2 separate regions of the Homo sapiens genome follow, and region 2 is linked to region 1. A link means that fine-mapping ties the variant in region 1 to the expression of a gene that starts in the linked region. Tissue or cell type: whole blood. Region 1 holds a variant in brackets; the other region holds the start of a gene. All regions are shown on one strand. Distances are between the middles of the regions.

Region 1 (8,108 bases):
TTAGCTGGGCTTGGTGGCGGGCACCTGTCATCACAGCTACTCCGGAGGCTGATGCAGGAGAATCACTTGAACCTGGGAGGCGGAGGTTGCAGTGAGCCGAGATCGTGCTGCTGCACTCCAGCCTGGGTGACAGAGCAAGACTCTGTCAAAAATAAATAATAAAAAAAGAAGCTTCACGTCATGATCTCTGACAGACACTTTAGGTTGGCTTACTCCACACGCATTGCAATCCTCTTCTGCCTTCCTCTGCTATAGAGGGGGGAGCTAAGAACTCTTATTCACCAGCCTTCCCTACAGGAAGGGGTGATGATTGGACACAATTCTGGCCAAGAAGATGTAGAAAGAAATCACTTAAGGAGAGGTGTTCTGGAAAATCGTTGCTTCCGTATTAAAAGAGGACAGAAGTGTCAATGTGGCTCTTCATCCTATCCCACCTTTTCCTGACTGGAATGTGGCCACAGCCTCCGAGGGTGAAGATGTCTTTTGGACATGAAAACAAAAGCTACACACAAAAAAATGGCAGAGCCCAGGTCCTTGGAGACATTTGAAAGCATCGCTCCACAGAGAGTGGAATCACGGTCACCAGAGACAGAGTAGGGAGTGGGAGGGGAGGATGGAGAGAGATAAGTCAATGGGTTCAGAGTTATAATTAGAAGCCCTGCATAGTGGCATGCACCTGTAGTCCCAGCTACTGGGGAGGCTGAAGGAGAAAGATTCCTTGAGCTCAGGAGTTTGAGGCCAACCTGGGCAACATAGCAAGATACCATCTCAAAAAAATGTAAAATGGGCCAGGACCAGTGGCTCACGCCTGTAATCCCAGCACTTTGGGAGGCCAAGGCAGGCAGATCACTTGAGCTCAGAAGTTCAAGACCAGCCTGGGCAATATGATGAAACCCCATCTCTACAAAAAATACAAAAATTAGCCAGTTGTGGTGGCATGCACCTGAGGTCCCAGCTACTTGAGAGGCTGAGATAGGAGGATTGCTTGAGCCCAGAAGGTTGAGGCTGCAGTGAGCTGAGATTGTGCCACTGCACTCCAACCTGGGTGACAGTGTCTCAAAAAAAAAAAATTAAAATTGAAGTAAATAAATAATTGAGAACAAAGTTACAGTTAGATAAGAGGAATAAATTCTGGTGTTCTATTGCACAGTAAGGTGAGGATAGTTAACAATAAGATATGGTATCTTACAAAATAGCTAGAAGGAAGGCTTTTCAAAGTCATCACCACAAAGAAATGGTAAGTGCATGAGGTCAGGATAAATACACAGATTCGATCACTATATAACACTATTGAAACATATATTGTACTCCATATATATGTACAATGACAATGTGTTCATTAAATAAATAGAGACATAAAAAGCACTGGGAGGCTGAGGCAGGCGGATCACGAGGTCAGGAGATTGAGACTATCCTGGCTAATACGGTAAAACCCCGTCTCTACTAAAAATACAAAAAAAAAAAAAAAAAATTAGCTGGGCTTGGTGGTGGGCACCTGTAGTCCCAGCTACATGGGAGAGGCTGAGGCAGGAGAATTGCTTGAACCTGGGAGGCAGAGGTAGCAGTGAGCCAAGATTGTGCCACTGCACTCCAGCCTGGGCAACAGAGCGAGACTCCGTCTCAAAAAAAAAAAAAAAAAAAAGCATTGTTCCGGCCCTTGTCTGCGTACCCCTAGACTTCTAATTATGTAAGAAAAATAACCACTATTTGGTTTTCTGTTATTTTTGATTCCTAAGCTATATGATTCTATGGGATTTAGCCTGAACAAGAGGAGCTCATACGATAGAAGAGCAAAACGGCAACACCCACTCTCTTTTCCTCCCCCGGTGCTTGGTGCCAGTAGGAATATGTTCTTTAGTATACTTTGGAATACCAGGATCCTAAAGTTCTTCTGGACTGAGTAGGAGAGTAGAAGATGAATTGTTGCAATACTAATTACCCCTAAGGGATTACTGGATACCCTTCACTTAGATTCCTGCCTGACTCCATGCACTTTCTTTTTCTTTCTTTCTTTCCTTTCTTTCTTTCCTTCCTTCCTTCCTTCCTTCTTTCTTTCCTTCTTTCTTTCGTTTCTTTCTTTCTCTCTCTCTCTCTCCTTCCTTCCTTCCTTCCTTCCTTCCTTCCTTCCTCTCTTTCTCTCTTTCTTTCTTTCTTTTTTGAGACGGAGTCTCACTCTGTTGCCCAGGCTGGAGTGTAGTGGCGCGATCTTGGCTCACCACAACCTCTGCCTCCTGGGTTCAAGCGATTCTCCTGCCTCAGCCTCCCAAGTAGCTGGGATTACAGGTGCCCGCCGCAACGCCCAGCTAATTTTTTTGTATTTTTAGTAGAGACGGGGTTTCACCATGTTGTCCAGACAGGGTTTCACCATGTTGTCCAGGCTGGTCTTGAACTCCTGACCTCAGGTGATCCACCCGCCTTGGCCTGCCAAAGTGCTGGGATTATAGGCGTGAGCCACCATGCCCAGCCAGCATATTTCTTGAATAGACATGACATGTACCAGAAATTTACCTCTGGGATCTCAGGAAATGAAGATATGGAGGCAGAGAAGAGACTCCAACACAGTTTGTGAGACCACATCAGAGACCTCCAGAAGTTAGGTAACCAGCAGGTAATTCATGCATTAGGAAGAAAGAAAAACTTGGCCCGTATACATGTGAAAGTCATAAATGTTCAAGACCTTATCAAACATCCAAAACCCTTCTTCAGTAGGTTTTTGATTAGTTCTTCTTACTGAGTCTCAACACTTTTCATGATTTTTCCTCTCTGGTCCCAGGCTTTACTTGTGTACTTTGCGAATTATCTAGGCCAGTCCTATCATTGCTTTAATTGCACTGCTACTTAGGCAACGTAGGACTCTATGAAAGGATTTCGAAGCCTGCATTTGGCTCTGTTAAGATGTCAATGTAGGGAGTTACAGCAAAAGCTCTTCCAACTCTTTGGACCAAATATACTCACAGTAATCAATCTATTCCTTTAAATTTGCTCCTTCTGCCTCTCCCATTACTTTTTTTTTTCTTCTTTGAGACAGAGTTTTGCTCTGTTCCCCAGGCTGGAGTGCAGTGGCACAATCTTGACTCACTGCAACCTCTGCCTCCTGGGTTCAAGTTATCCTCTCACCTCAGCCTCCCGAGTAGCTGGGACTACCGGTGCATGCTACCACACCTGGCTAATTTTTAAAATTTTTTTGTAGAGTCGGGGTTTTGCCATATTGCCCCGTCCCACTACTTTTAATATAAAAATGGTGGTGTTAAAATATTTGCTGTGAAAATGGTCTTATCTTGAATCAAGAAACTGCTTCAGAGGGTTATCACAAATTGATGTAATCTATTAAAAAATGACAAAATATTACCTCTCTCAAATTATATAAGATGGAGACTTAAAGTGTAAGACACTCCCTTCTCATTAAAATTCAGCATCATAAGTTTCATGGTTTTTTGTTTGTTTGTTTGTTTGTTTGTTTTTTGAGACAGAGTTTTGTCCTCGTGGCCCAGGCTTGAGCACAATGGTGCGATCTCTGCTCACTGCAATCTCCACCTCCTGGGTTCAGGCAATTCTCCTGCCTCAGCCTCCCAAGTAGCTGGGATTATAGGCACCCACCACCACGCCCAGCTAATTTTTTGTATTTTTAGTAGAGACCATGTTTCACCATGTTGGCCAGGCTGGTCCCGAACTCCTGACCTCAGGTGATCTGCCCGCCTCGGTCTCCCAAAGTGCTGGGATTACAGGCATGAGCCACCATGCCTGGCCCAACAATATATCTTTTTAAGAGTGAATCTGAGACTTGATCCTGGAATTCTGGGTTCTCTGTTCTGCATTTTATTTTTATTTTTACTTATTCATTTTTTAGAGACAGGGTCTTGCTCTGTTGCCAAGGCTGAAATGCAGTGGTGTGATCATAGTTCACTGCCACCTCAAACACATGTGCTCAAGTGATCCTCCCACCTAAACCTCTCGGGTAGCCGAGATTACAGGCACATGCCACCAAGCTCAGCTAATTTTTATTTATTTATTTATTTATTTATTTATTTTTGGAGATGGGGTCTTTCTATGTTTTCCAGGCTTGTTCATTTTATTGACACTGTATAAAGCAAACATATTAATAGCAGCCATGAACCTCAGAACTACAAAATTGCTGTAGGTCAGTATTGGACCATTTCTGCTCTAGTAAATTTGCAATGAGATTTCCATTCCTTTTCTCCCACATGGCCTCATCTGTTTAAATTACCTGGGTCAACTAAGAAGGATCTACAAAGTTTATCTTCAGAAATGAACTTTTCTGGGGTGGCACTGGAAATGCCTAAGCTGCATAAGATTTTGGGGCTTGGAACCTTCTGTACGGTAACTTGGGCCAAGGCATTCGAGTGATCGGTGAGAATTTCATAAGGAAAAGTGTGCTTGGGAGGGGAGATCCCACACTGTGACAGCCTCTGCTGGGACCTGGAGAGCCTCTCCATGGGAGAGAGTGAGCTTGCCAGTAAGCTGCGGTA[G/A]AGGAGCTCAATCATGGATGCTTGCTTCTCTTTTTTAACCACTGTGCACCTGATAACAGGTTGGAGATCTCCTCTCACATCAGCGCCCCTGGTGAATGACATGACATTCAGGTTTCTAGCAAGTACTTCCTGTGCTTCGTTAAGTGAAATACCATGCATTTTTAGAAGATTTGATTTCTTGCTCTCCTTATTAAAATTCTCAATACATGCATATAATTCTGGAAGCTGTGGACAAAAAAAAAAGTGGTAAGTCACGAGACTGACAAAAATGTAATATTCTGGCAGACCTACAAACCCTAGAAAAAACCATAGGACAATAAATAACCATAAAGACAAAAGCATTTTTATCTTTGGAAGATATCTTTGCCTAACTAAAGCAAGTCAATTGTGGCAATGTGGAATAGAGAACAGAGAGGTCAAATCTCCGATTCACTCCCTTAAAGATGTATTATTTAGACACGTCTTATAAATGCTTGTTATAAAATTAGGCAGTTAGAATTGAACTAAGAAGTCTTGAAGATCTTTCCAACTCTGAAATTCTATGAGTGACCACGGAGAGAAATAGCTGTGGGAGACTGTGGCCTTTGCTTGTTTTGAACAATGCTATTATGTCTTTGAAGGAAGAAAGCGAGCCAGATCACTTAGATATCAGAGCTTCATCCTGTTGTCCAAAGAGCCCATAATGTTCAGGAATCCAGTGCTGAGGAGGCGACAATAGTCATTGCTCACTGGGATATGTGACCAGAGCAAATGGTGACATACATTGAGTATCTGGGAATAGTTATTGGCAGAAAAAAACAGTAACAGATCCCTGAGAGGACCTGTCCCCATCTAAAATCCTATACTTCCTACAAATCCTATCCTTTCTAAGAGGTTTCTTAGGCCATTACACTGGAAGGCCAAAGAGGCCATAGTCTCAGGTTAGGGCTGAAATTTAGGTCCTTTAGCCCAATGCAGAGTTTTCCTTCAATCCTAGTCAATTTTATTGCAAGGGCAACAAATAGAAAGTGAGCTAACGCGTGGGAAAGTAGAAGGGACTTTGGACGTCTTCCAGAATGTCAAGAGTCTGCGGCTACAGAGGCTACACAAGTGGTCCAGACCCTGGAACCAGTATGAGCTCTGCTACAAGGTGGTGCAGGAATATATGGATGCATTCTCAGTTACGCCAACTTCAAGTAAGAGGCGACAAGGGCCCGTGGACCAGGAGGATTGCTTTTAATATTTTATAATAGTCTGTTTTGTTAGTTTACCCCAAATTGTGTATCTGTCTTGTAACTGTTTTAGAAATTGGTACATAGGTGGAGATTTTATAAGTAAATGTGTTAGCACTGATAGTCTTTTTTTCCAGTGTTTTTTTGGGGAGTTAAATAGTGTGATGTTTGGACCGATATCATGAAATCTTTAGCCTGGAAATTGGGCTGGATTGTTCTCTGGTTAATACATCTTTTCCTAAAGAAAAAAAAAAAAAAGAAAGTGTGCTAACATTGGTGAATGGCTCTTTATAACGAATTATACAACCACACTATCACGAAAACAGCTCAGCACTTCTGCCCACCTGCCCTGGGAAGAGCTACACTTCTCTGTGACTAAGAATGTTAAGTCATTAAAGTGACATTTTGGAGTTTCCCATGGCTCCCAAGTGTGTCACTGTGCGTTCAATAGTTTGAATGTTTATGATTCTTGAATGTAAAGCTCCCTGTGTACACCTCGTTGTACAATGTTAAGTACATACTGAACATTGAGGAAGGGTGGCTTCTCTATTGTCCTCAGCTGGACTGGTGTCTCCAGTGAGGAACATCGTGCTGGGATTTTATTCTCTAATTCCTAAAAAAAGCAATATGAGAAAAGACAAAAATCAAAGATTAAAAATCAGATAGAATACAAAGGGGGAGGTGAGACTTCTTAAATCTTAATAAATTTGTGAGTGGGACATTTTGAAAATTTTATACCTGTATTAGTCCATTCTTGAATTGCTCTAAAGAAATATCTGAAACTGGGTAATTTATAAGAAAATAGGTTTAATTGGCTCATGGTTCTGCACACAGTCCAGGAAGCATGGTTGGGGAGGCCTCAGGAAACTTACAATTATTGGGGGAAGGCAAAGGAGAAGCAGGGCACGTCTTACATGGCCAGGACAGGAGAAAGAAAGAGCAAAGGGGGAAGTGCTATACACTTTTAAACAACCGGGTCTCATGAGAACTCACAATCATGAGAACAGCAAGGGGAAATCCTCCCCCATGATCCAGTCACCTCCCACCAGGCCCCACCTCCAACACTGGGGATAACAATTTGATGTGAGATTTGGGTGGGGACACAAATCCAAAGCATATCAATACAATTTAAACTTTTCATTTGCTTTTTCGTAGTTTAGGTCTGCCAAATTTGTCATGCTTCAACTGAGCATTTCACTGAAATACCCAAATTCTTCTACAACATGTGTATTTAGTTTTAATACTAGTGTAACAAATCCTATATGGATGGTTTTATTTTTTATTTTATGTATTTATTTTTTTGAGATGAAGTTTCACTCTTGTTGCCCATGCTGGAGTGCAATGGCACGATCTTGGCTCACTGCAACCTCTGCATCCCGGGTTCAAGCAATTCTCCTGCCTTAGCCTCCCAAGTAGCTGGGATTACAGGCATGTGCCACCACACCTGGCTGATTTTGTATTTTTAGTAGAGACAGGGTTTCACCGTGTTGGTCAGGCTGGTCTTGAACTCCTGACCTCAGGTGATCCACCCACCTCGGCCTCCCAAAATGCTGGGATTACAGGTGTGGGCCACCACGCCCAGCTGGATAGTTTTATTTTCTTGTCTTACATATTCTGATCAACTTTCAGTTCATCTAAAGAAAAACTCACCCACCTCCTTACACTCAAAAAGTGTTTTTTATTCAGGAGGAAAAGGCTCATATGTAATGATAATAATAAAAACAATAAATATTTTGAAAATAATTTACTTTGTGTCAGATACACTATAAGGCATTTTGCAGATGGAATTGTGTTTAATTTTTCTGCAAGACGTTAAAAATGGCCATGGAATCTCCACAATTCATCTCATTGATAAGTGGCAGTTAAGTTCTCTCCCACATTTTACTGGGCTGGCCTATGCTTGGCTTTGATCAATAGCTTGTGGCATTGTGTCAGTGACATAGTGTGAGTGCCAGAACCCAGACCTTAAGAGGCTTTGCGGCTTTCCTACACATTCTTGGGAGCCTGAGCCACCATGTAAAGAGAGATCTGGCTGCCTATCTGGAGAGACCATGCAGACTCAGCAGCCAGTATTGACCACTAGACATGTAGATAAAGCCATCTTGGTTCACCCAGCCCCAGACGAGCCTCCAGATAACTACAGCAGCATAAGCAACCTCAGCCAATCCCAGATGGAGAAGAACTACCTCCCAGCTGAGCAAGGCAACTCTAAAATTTTGACAAAGAGTAAATTATTATTGTTTCAAACCACTAAGCTTTGCATGAATTGTTATATAGCAATAAATACAGATAAACCCCATAAAACTTCACATTCTTGGCTTAATTTATTCCAGTGAAACCCTTATTGGTAGGTAAGAGAATATATGGATGGAAAATATATTTCTAGGTACAGGGTACCACTGTATCATGA
Region 2 (8,108 bases), 130 kb before region 1:
GAAAGACCCAAAAGAGCCCAGCAGGGCTGAAAACCAAGAAGAACCGAGAACCAGCTGAAACTTGCAGTGTTCCCCAACTCGCACACAGACCTACTGATAGAGGGATGGAGACTGACCTGGCAGGTGACTCCTGGTTCAGTGCTCCTTGGAGAATTTGGATGCCATGAAGTGATATTAGATGTCAGTTTAGCTACCTGTTATTTTGAGTGCTTCCTTAGCGGTACTGTTGAGGCAGTGTGGCTTAGGAAAAGAGTACTGATGTGGGTCAGGCCAAAAGGAATTTTAATCCTAGCTTTCTTACTATTTGCATGAATTTTGGTGAGTTGTATAATCCCCCTCTCTGTATCTTATTCAATCCTTGTAAAAGTCCATTGAAGTAGGCTTACTACTGACCCCATGTTCTAGGATGCAGTGATATGAGACTTTAAATATGTAAAACCTTTTGTTGTGAGGATTAAAAATTACAGCGGCAATAAAGTACACACCACATGATAACTGCTCGATAGGTTTTTTTTTTTTTTTTGGTTTGGAAATAAAAGGATATCTCATGACACATGAAAATTACATGAAACTAAAACTTCTGTATCCATAAATAAAGTTTTACTGGAACAGAACCATGCCCATTCATTTACATATTATCTGTGGCTACTGGGCTATAACAGCAGAGCTGAGTAGTTGTGACAGGGACCACAGGGTCTGCAACATCTAAAATAGTATCTGGTCCTTTTCAGAAACAGGTTGCCAACTCCTGCTGTAGTTCAATGGTCCTTAAAGTGTGGTCCCCATATTAGCAGCATCAGCATTACCTTGGAATTTGTCAGAAATGCAAATTTTGTGGCCGACCCCAGACCTACCAAGTCAGAGGTCTGTTTATTCCACTAATAAATGCAAACACAGGACAGCAAAATACCGTGGCTGGCAAAGCTCTATACTGAGTCAGCCTTGCATGAGATACCTCATGAAGTAGAAACTATGCTGATGTAATCAGATCTGACAAGACACAGGCCCAAAATACTTAAAATTAAGAGAAAGAGTATTTAAAACAGGGTTTCTACCTCTAATGTTGTTAACAAATCCAGCCCTATGTGTATATTGGGCCTTGAGACACAATATAACCATAACAGCAAATACATGTAGTTTATAAATAAGCAACAAATGCACATACAGAAGAGTGTTAAAAAAGTTTTTTTATTACTAAGAAACATCAAAAAAGTTGGGAAACGATAGCAAATTACAATATAAACAACTATAATCATATTATATAGTATTTATATATGTACTTTTTTCTGTCAGGCACTAATCTTCAAAATCTTAGCAAGGGAAGTCCTACTAATAAAGTGCTTAAGGGTTTTAAAGGAAAATAAGACCAAAATGTAAAAATCTGAGAAGGCATGGACTTTTTTTTTTTTTTTTCCTGAAAGTGTGAGAAATATCTGTGTGAAAGAAAGGAAAGACTCTCTGGAAATTTAAGAAACACTTCATAAATTTGGAGACAAGTCTCTCTTTTAATGTAACTTCATCAATAACGTGAGAAGTCCAGAAAACCACCATGATCTTTAAGAACAGTTTTTGGGGAGCAAGTGAAATATCATTCGCCCTTTTCTAAGGTGAGAGCAAAAGCATAGTAGCACCATTCCTTCTGTTCCTTCTACTTTTTTACAAATGTTTAAAAAATTGTTTTGTTTTACAAAAACAGAAGTGCTTTTAAAAAATCCCAATTACAAATGTTATTTCTCACATTACGTCACTGAAAAAGAAATGTATCTTTTTTCATAGGGCAACTTATTTTTTTTTTATTTCAAGAAAAAACAAGTAATAACAATAATGCTGCAGAATTTAAGCCAAAGGCACAGAACACCGCTCCCCCGCCCCCAATGGCCACCCCAGGTCCTTTGAGAAAGGCGGCTGGACCTCAGGGACCACGCTGCCTTCAAGCTCCCTCCCACCAATAGTGCCCATCAACTGACACCTGTCTTCTTCTCAGCACACCTGCCTAAAGTGATGCTCCACCCTTCCTACTGATCCACGCAGACGCATTTTCCCCAGGTTCTGCCCTCTGTACTTCCAATGCAGAAAGCCAGCTCGCACTTTCACAGGATAAGGGTAGCAGTTCCCTCCTTCCTGGGGAAGGTGGCCATATATATATAAACCCGGGTAGCCCTGGGCCTGCTATGGTCAGCTGTCCTAACTGTTGTTTCTGCCCAGCCCTCAACAACAACAACAACAGCGGGTGGAATGTAAATGCAAAATCTTTTCATTTCCCATCAATAACTGGACCTAAACCAGCCATTAGAAAGCAGATGGTATCCCTGGCCCTTAATATCCAAGTCACCACAATTTCCTGGCCCCACCCTCAGCACTACTTTCCTCTCATTTCTTTCGTTTTCCTGTAAAACCAACTTTAAAAAAAAATGTGAAAATTGGATAACCTCTCCATAGGAGAACAAAATGTATCTTAAAAGCTAACCTCTTTTCTTTAACCATCCTAACAATTCAATTTTTGTTCACTGACACCTTAAGAATTGAGTGTCTGGCCTAAAAACAGTAAGTCTTAGCAAGTTACTAGTTTCTATTAAGAAAGAAAGTAATGAGCTTAGCTTCATCTTTTATAACACAACTGGAAGAAGCTAGGATGCCTTTGGAGACCCACAAAAACTGACAAGAGATTGTCCCATGCCCTCCAAAATTCAGAAATACTAAAACTGAGATTTGAGCCAACCTGATGGCCATGAGCTAAACAAAGCCACTCAAGCGCTGCTAAATACTTCATCAGGTTATTGTGTATCTCACTAATCCAGCCCTAGAAATGTTCCTCAATAATGTGCATAATGTAGGGCCTAGGGACCCCAAATCAGACAAAGAAAACCTCAAAATCGTGAAAGTCACACAAGTTTAGTTTTGCAAATCTGGCTATGGGACATCTGAAATTGTCCAGCATCATCATGGTATTTCAAATATAATAATTCTTAAATTTTGCTAAAAAATTTCATCAAAATTGTTATTCTTCACATTTTGTTTCTTAAAAGCAAATCATTAAAAATATTAAATGGGATATGATTTTTACAGCAGGGCAAAGTTGTGTGGATCCTCCACGTTGGCAAAGGTGGAAACACAGGTATGCGAGAAAACCCCGAGCATCCACGAGAACGGGATGCAGCCGCGCTCTGGACGCGCGGCGGGAGGACCCGGAGCCCAAGCTCCGGGGTCACCAGCCACGAGGCCCAGCGGCAACGTGGACCCCAGGGCGGCCGGAGCGCGCCTGGGGCTGGAGGGGAGGAAGAGGCGGCGGGAGCCGAGAGACTCGCGGCTCGGCCAGCCTCCCGCGCCTGGTGCAAATCACGCTGCAGAACTGGAACTAGTGCGACTTAGGGGGTGCACGCTTTTGACTTTGGATGCCGACGCGCGTGACAAAGCTCAGAACAAAAAGACAGGCCCCGCATCGCCTGAGACTGCAGGGCAGGGAATCCTCGCGAGGCCCCTCATCGCAGGGCAAGGGGGCCGCGCGCCCGGTCTTGGGGAGCGAGCCGAGGGGCCCAGGCAGCCGCGGGCTACTCGGTGCAGGAAGGTGCGGAGCCAGCCCCGAGCGCAGCCAGCGAAGGTTGCAGCCCCGGCGCAAGCCGCGGGGAGGCTCCGGGGACCGACGCGAGGTCTCGGCGCGCGGGGTACGGGCCCTGGGCAAAGGAGGGAGGAAGCGATGGACCGCGGTTCGGGCAGCCTGGGGCCGCGCGCCGCCCACTCACCTCTTTTCGAGGCTCCGGCCGCCACTCGGGGATCCGGGGCCCCGCTACGAGGCCGCCCGGGTCGCTCTCCCGCCGCCGCCGGCCTCGAGCTCCGGCCGGCTCCGCGCCGTGCGCCCAGCGCCTCCGCGTCCAGCGCCGCCGCGTCTCCGGCCTCCGCAGCGGCAAGGCCCCGCCCCCGAGCAGCGCCGGCGGCGCGAAGGGAGGAGGCGGCGCCGCGAGCGCGGAGAAGCGAGGCAGGGGCTGCCGGGGCCGCGCGGACTCCCGGCCCCACGGTGCGCGCGCCCCGGCCGGTGGCCGCCCCTCGGCGGGAGCAGGAACGCCAGCGTGCGCCCAGTTCTCGCCGCTGGGCGTTGCCCCTTCCCCCGGGCCACCCCATCGCCCCTTCCGACGCGGGAGCTGGCGCCTGAGCAGCGACGCGGAGCGGGGAAGCGGCTGTGGGGAAAGGGTACCTGGGGGGAGCCCCCATCCCACGTTCCGCCCCGAGGGAATGTTCCCGAACAGCCAACCGCACCCAGCGCCACACTCACGTTACCTTCTTTATAAAAGTCGTCGGGTCAAAACTGCCCAGAGAAGGAAGCGAACGAAAAACAGGTTTTTAGGGGGCTTATACTCACAAAATTGTCTTTTTTCTCCCACGAGGCATTCCCTGTTGACCATCATCTCGCCTCGGTTGTCACCGCTCAGGCCTTAGTGTTTGGTCTGTGACCCTTCCACTGCTAGCAACGGAAAAAGTGAAGATTCCCGGACGCCTTCGGGTGTGATCTTATAGCCCGGGCAGCTGCATTTGAAACAGCGCCTCAGATGACGCTCAGGCGCACTGATGTTTGAGAAGCCCTATGAGGCCGTACCTCCCGGAGAGAATGCCACAAAACTAGTGACCTACAGGGAAACCATGCTAGAAAATTCTAAAGCAATGGTTCTTAACTCTGGCAGCACCTGCCATCCATTAGAATTATTTGGGGAGCTTTTAGAGCATTTAGGAACCAGGGTCCCACTTCCAGAGTTCAAAGTGAACTTGATATTTTTTGTTTGTTTTGAGCTTCCCAGATAATCCTAATACAGTATACGGCCAAGATTGAGAACAGTTTTCCTAGAATCATGTCTTCATGTCTTCCTAGCTCTGGTGTCTGGGAAAGGAAACTCCTTCCTCTGCGCCTCTCTCAAATCACAATAAAAAAACAAGTAAATACATGAACACCTAAAGGAATGCTCACAGCTGAAATTGATTTTAACCAGAACAAAGAGTCACCTTAAAAAAGGTGATCAAGATACCCTATTGCTACCTGAGCATGGAGCTTCTTAACTGCAGGAAACGTATCTTTACCAGCTAAAACCTCTTAGCTGAATTAGAAGCTGACCATACATGACCCCTTTAGAGGAATGTTCTACTATATTCCAAAATGATATTTTTGTTATCTGCAACTGTTAAACTGTTGTAGGGTCAGACCAAAGCATTCAGAAGCTGAGGCTGTATCAGATGTCAGCCCTGGTTTTGCAGACTTAAGTTGTGTCACTTTGATCTTCTAGTGAGCTTAAATAACCATAATCGGGGACAGGTACAGGAAATTCCCTTTCTTGCCCATTTTAGCTCTCTTAGTATAGTTTACATTCTTAGACTGGTGGACTGTAACTTCTATATCATTTGGCTCTAAGGAGGGTCTCCATTAGTCTCTCATTTATCAGCAACTAATTAGCGACTCACTCAGTGATTCTTAAACACTTTATGGAACAGGTCCATATGTCTAGGTGCTAAGGCAGCTGGCTGAATGAGCTATATTTTAATTGAAGATGAATTAGTCCTTTTCGTTAGATTCTTTATGACAAAAGTTGAAAATTTTAAGATGCAGTTTTATATATATCTATATACATAATTTACATTCCTTATAAAAAAGCTAATCAGTTGCTGGCCCTGAAAATTCAATTGGATGGGTTTTGATTAAACAATGTGCAAGGGGCTACAGTGGTTGGTTGAAGGAAGCATCCATGTTTTGCCTGTTAAGCATCCTTTCCTTAATGTCTTAGTCCATTTTGTGTTGCTATAACACAATTCCACAGACTCAGTAATTTATAAAGAAAAGAAATGTATTTCTCATAGTTCTGAAGGCTAGGAAGTCTAATATCAAGGTGCTGGCATCTTGCAAGGGCCTTCTTGCTGCATCAGCCTGTGGTGGAAGGCAGAAGGGCAAGAGGGTGTATGTGAAATTGAACTTGCAGCCTCAAACCCTCTATAATTGGCATTAATTTATTTATAAGAGTGGAGCCTTTATGACCTAAACACCTCCCTTTGGGCCCCACCTCCCAACACTGTTGCACTGGAGATTCAGTTTTCAACACGTGCTTTATGGAGCACACATTCAAACCATAGCATTCTGCTTCTATGCCCCCCACCACCCCCAGTTCATATCCTTCTCACATACAAAATACATTTATTCCATCCCAACAGCCCTAAAGGCTTTAATATTTATTTATTTATTTATTTATTTTGAGACAGGGTTTCACTCTGTCCCCCCGGCAGAAGTGCAGTGGTGTGATCATGGCTCACTACAGCCTCAACCTCCTGGGCTCAGGTGATTCTCCCACCTCAGCCTCCTGAGTAACTGGGACTACAGGTGTATGCCATCATGCTCAGCTAATTTTTTTGGTATTTTTTGTAGAGATGAGGTTTTGACATGTGGCCCAGGCTGGTCTCAAACTCCTGGGCTCAAGCAATCCACCTGCCTCAGCCTTCGAGAGTGGTGGGACTACAGTCATGAGCCACTGCACCTGGCAGCCCTAAGGTCTTCACTCTAGCACCAACTAGAAAGTCCAGAGTCTCATCTAAATCAGATATGAGCAAGATTCAAGGCACAATTCATCCTAAGACAAATTCCTCCAGCAATGAGCCTGTGAAATTAAAACAAATTATTTACTTCCAAAATACAATGGTGGCACAGGCACAGTATAGGTATTCACATTCCCAAAGGGAGAAATATGTAAGATAAAGGGGTAACTGGTCCCAAGTAAGTCCAAAACCCAACAGGGAAAAAATAACATTAAATCCCAAAGCCTCAGAATAGCCTTTCTTGACTATATCTCACCTTCTAAGCATACTAGGGTGGGAGTTGGACCCCCAAGGTCTTGGGCTGCCCCATCTGTATAACTTGGCTGGGTGTAGTCATGTCACAGAACCTCATGGTTTGTAGTCTCATGTCTAAAGCTCTTCCAAGCTGTGTTGCACACTGGTAGCTCTACAGTTCTGGGGGCTCTGGGACAGCCCCAACCCCACAGTTCCATTGGTCATTGTCCTAGTGGTGGTTCCCTGCTATGGCTTTGCTTCCATGGCTCCACTAGGCATTTCCCTGGTAGGGAATCTCTGTGGCAGTTCTGCCCCTACGGCAAGTTTCTGCCTGTATCCCCAGGCTGTCCAGTACATTCTTTGGAATCTAGGTGGAGGCTGCCATAGCCCCATAGCTCATGAACTCTGTGTACCTTCAGAATTAGCACCACATGGATGCCGCCAAGGCCCACCACTTACACCCTCTAGAACAGTAGCCTAAGCCACAGCTGGGCCCACTTGAGCCACACAGCTGCAACAGCTGTGGAGTGCTGTGCTGGAAAGCGGGGAGCAGATACTTGAGGCAGTGCCTGGTAGCAAATGCTGAGGTCCTGTGGCCACGTCTCTGGAAACCTTGCCTTCAAGGTCCTGCTCTGGGCCTGTGATGGAAGGGGCAACCTAAAAAATCTCTGAAATGCCATTGGGGTCTTTCTTGTCTTGATGAATAGCACCTGACTCCTTTCTAGCCATGGTAATCTCTTTAGCAAGGGGTCCACTGGACTATATCCCTACAAGGACTTACATCTTTATGAGGCTCTCCCAAACATGCCTTTGCACTCTTGGCCAGGCTGAAAATTTTCAAAATTTTTTTCTGCTTCCTTTTTAGTTATAAATTTCATCTTTTAATCATTTATTTCTTCTCTAATTTTACTGTAAGCAGCCAAAACAATCCATGCAACACCTTGAATGCTTTACTGCTTAGACATTTCTTCTGCTAGATATCCTAGTTCATTGCTCTTAAATGCTGCCTTCTTTTCTCTAGCTTACCTTATTGTAAGAATACAGTTTATAATACATATAACATGCAAAATATGTGTTAACTGTTTATGTTATCAGTAAGGCTACCAGTCAACAGTAGGCTATCAGTAGTTAAGTTTTGGGGGAATCAAAGTTAAATGCAGATTTCCAACTGTGCAGAGATGGGGGTGTCCCTAACCCGTAGATTGTTCAAGGGTAAACTGCATGAAATAAATTGAATTGAACAGACTAAAAAGTATTTGCTGTAAATATCTTGCTGTGTTTGCTTTCAGTATCCATTATTTCCTTTCTCAGGT

What was found. PIP is the estimated chance that this variant, and not a neighbour inherited with it, causes the effect.
Region 2: GOLM1 starts here. The variant in region 1 is fine-mapped to the expression of GOLM1 in whole blood (INTERVAL, PIP 0.94).

Annotation. Positions count from the first base shown.
Region 1 is chr9:86,223,319-86,231,426 of GRCh38, forward strand. C9orf153 (chromosome 9 open reading frame 153) reads right to left here. Exons shown (of 4, transcript NM_001276366.4): 2 at 6,220-6,311; 3 at 4,537-4,712. The coding sequence starts at 6,285. Among named protein-coding and RNA genes, the nearest start is that of C9orf153, 32 kb to the right of the region's middle. The variant G/A (reference allele first, on the strand shown) is at 4,488.
Region 2 is chr9:86,095,671-86,103,778 of GRCh38, forward strand. It overlaps GOLM1 (golgi membrane protein 1), which reads right to left and starts at 3,888. Exons shown (of 10, transcript NM_016548.4): 1 at 3,741-3,888. RefSeq lists an enhancer at 3,329-3,829 and silencers at 3,460-3,509, 3,670-3,769, 3,780-4,099.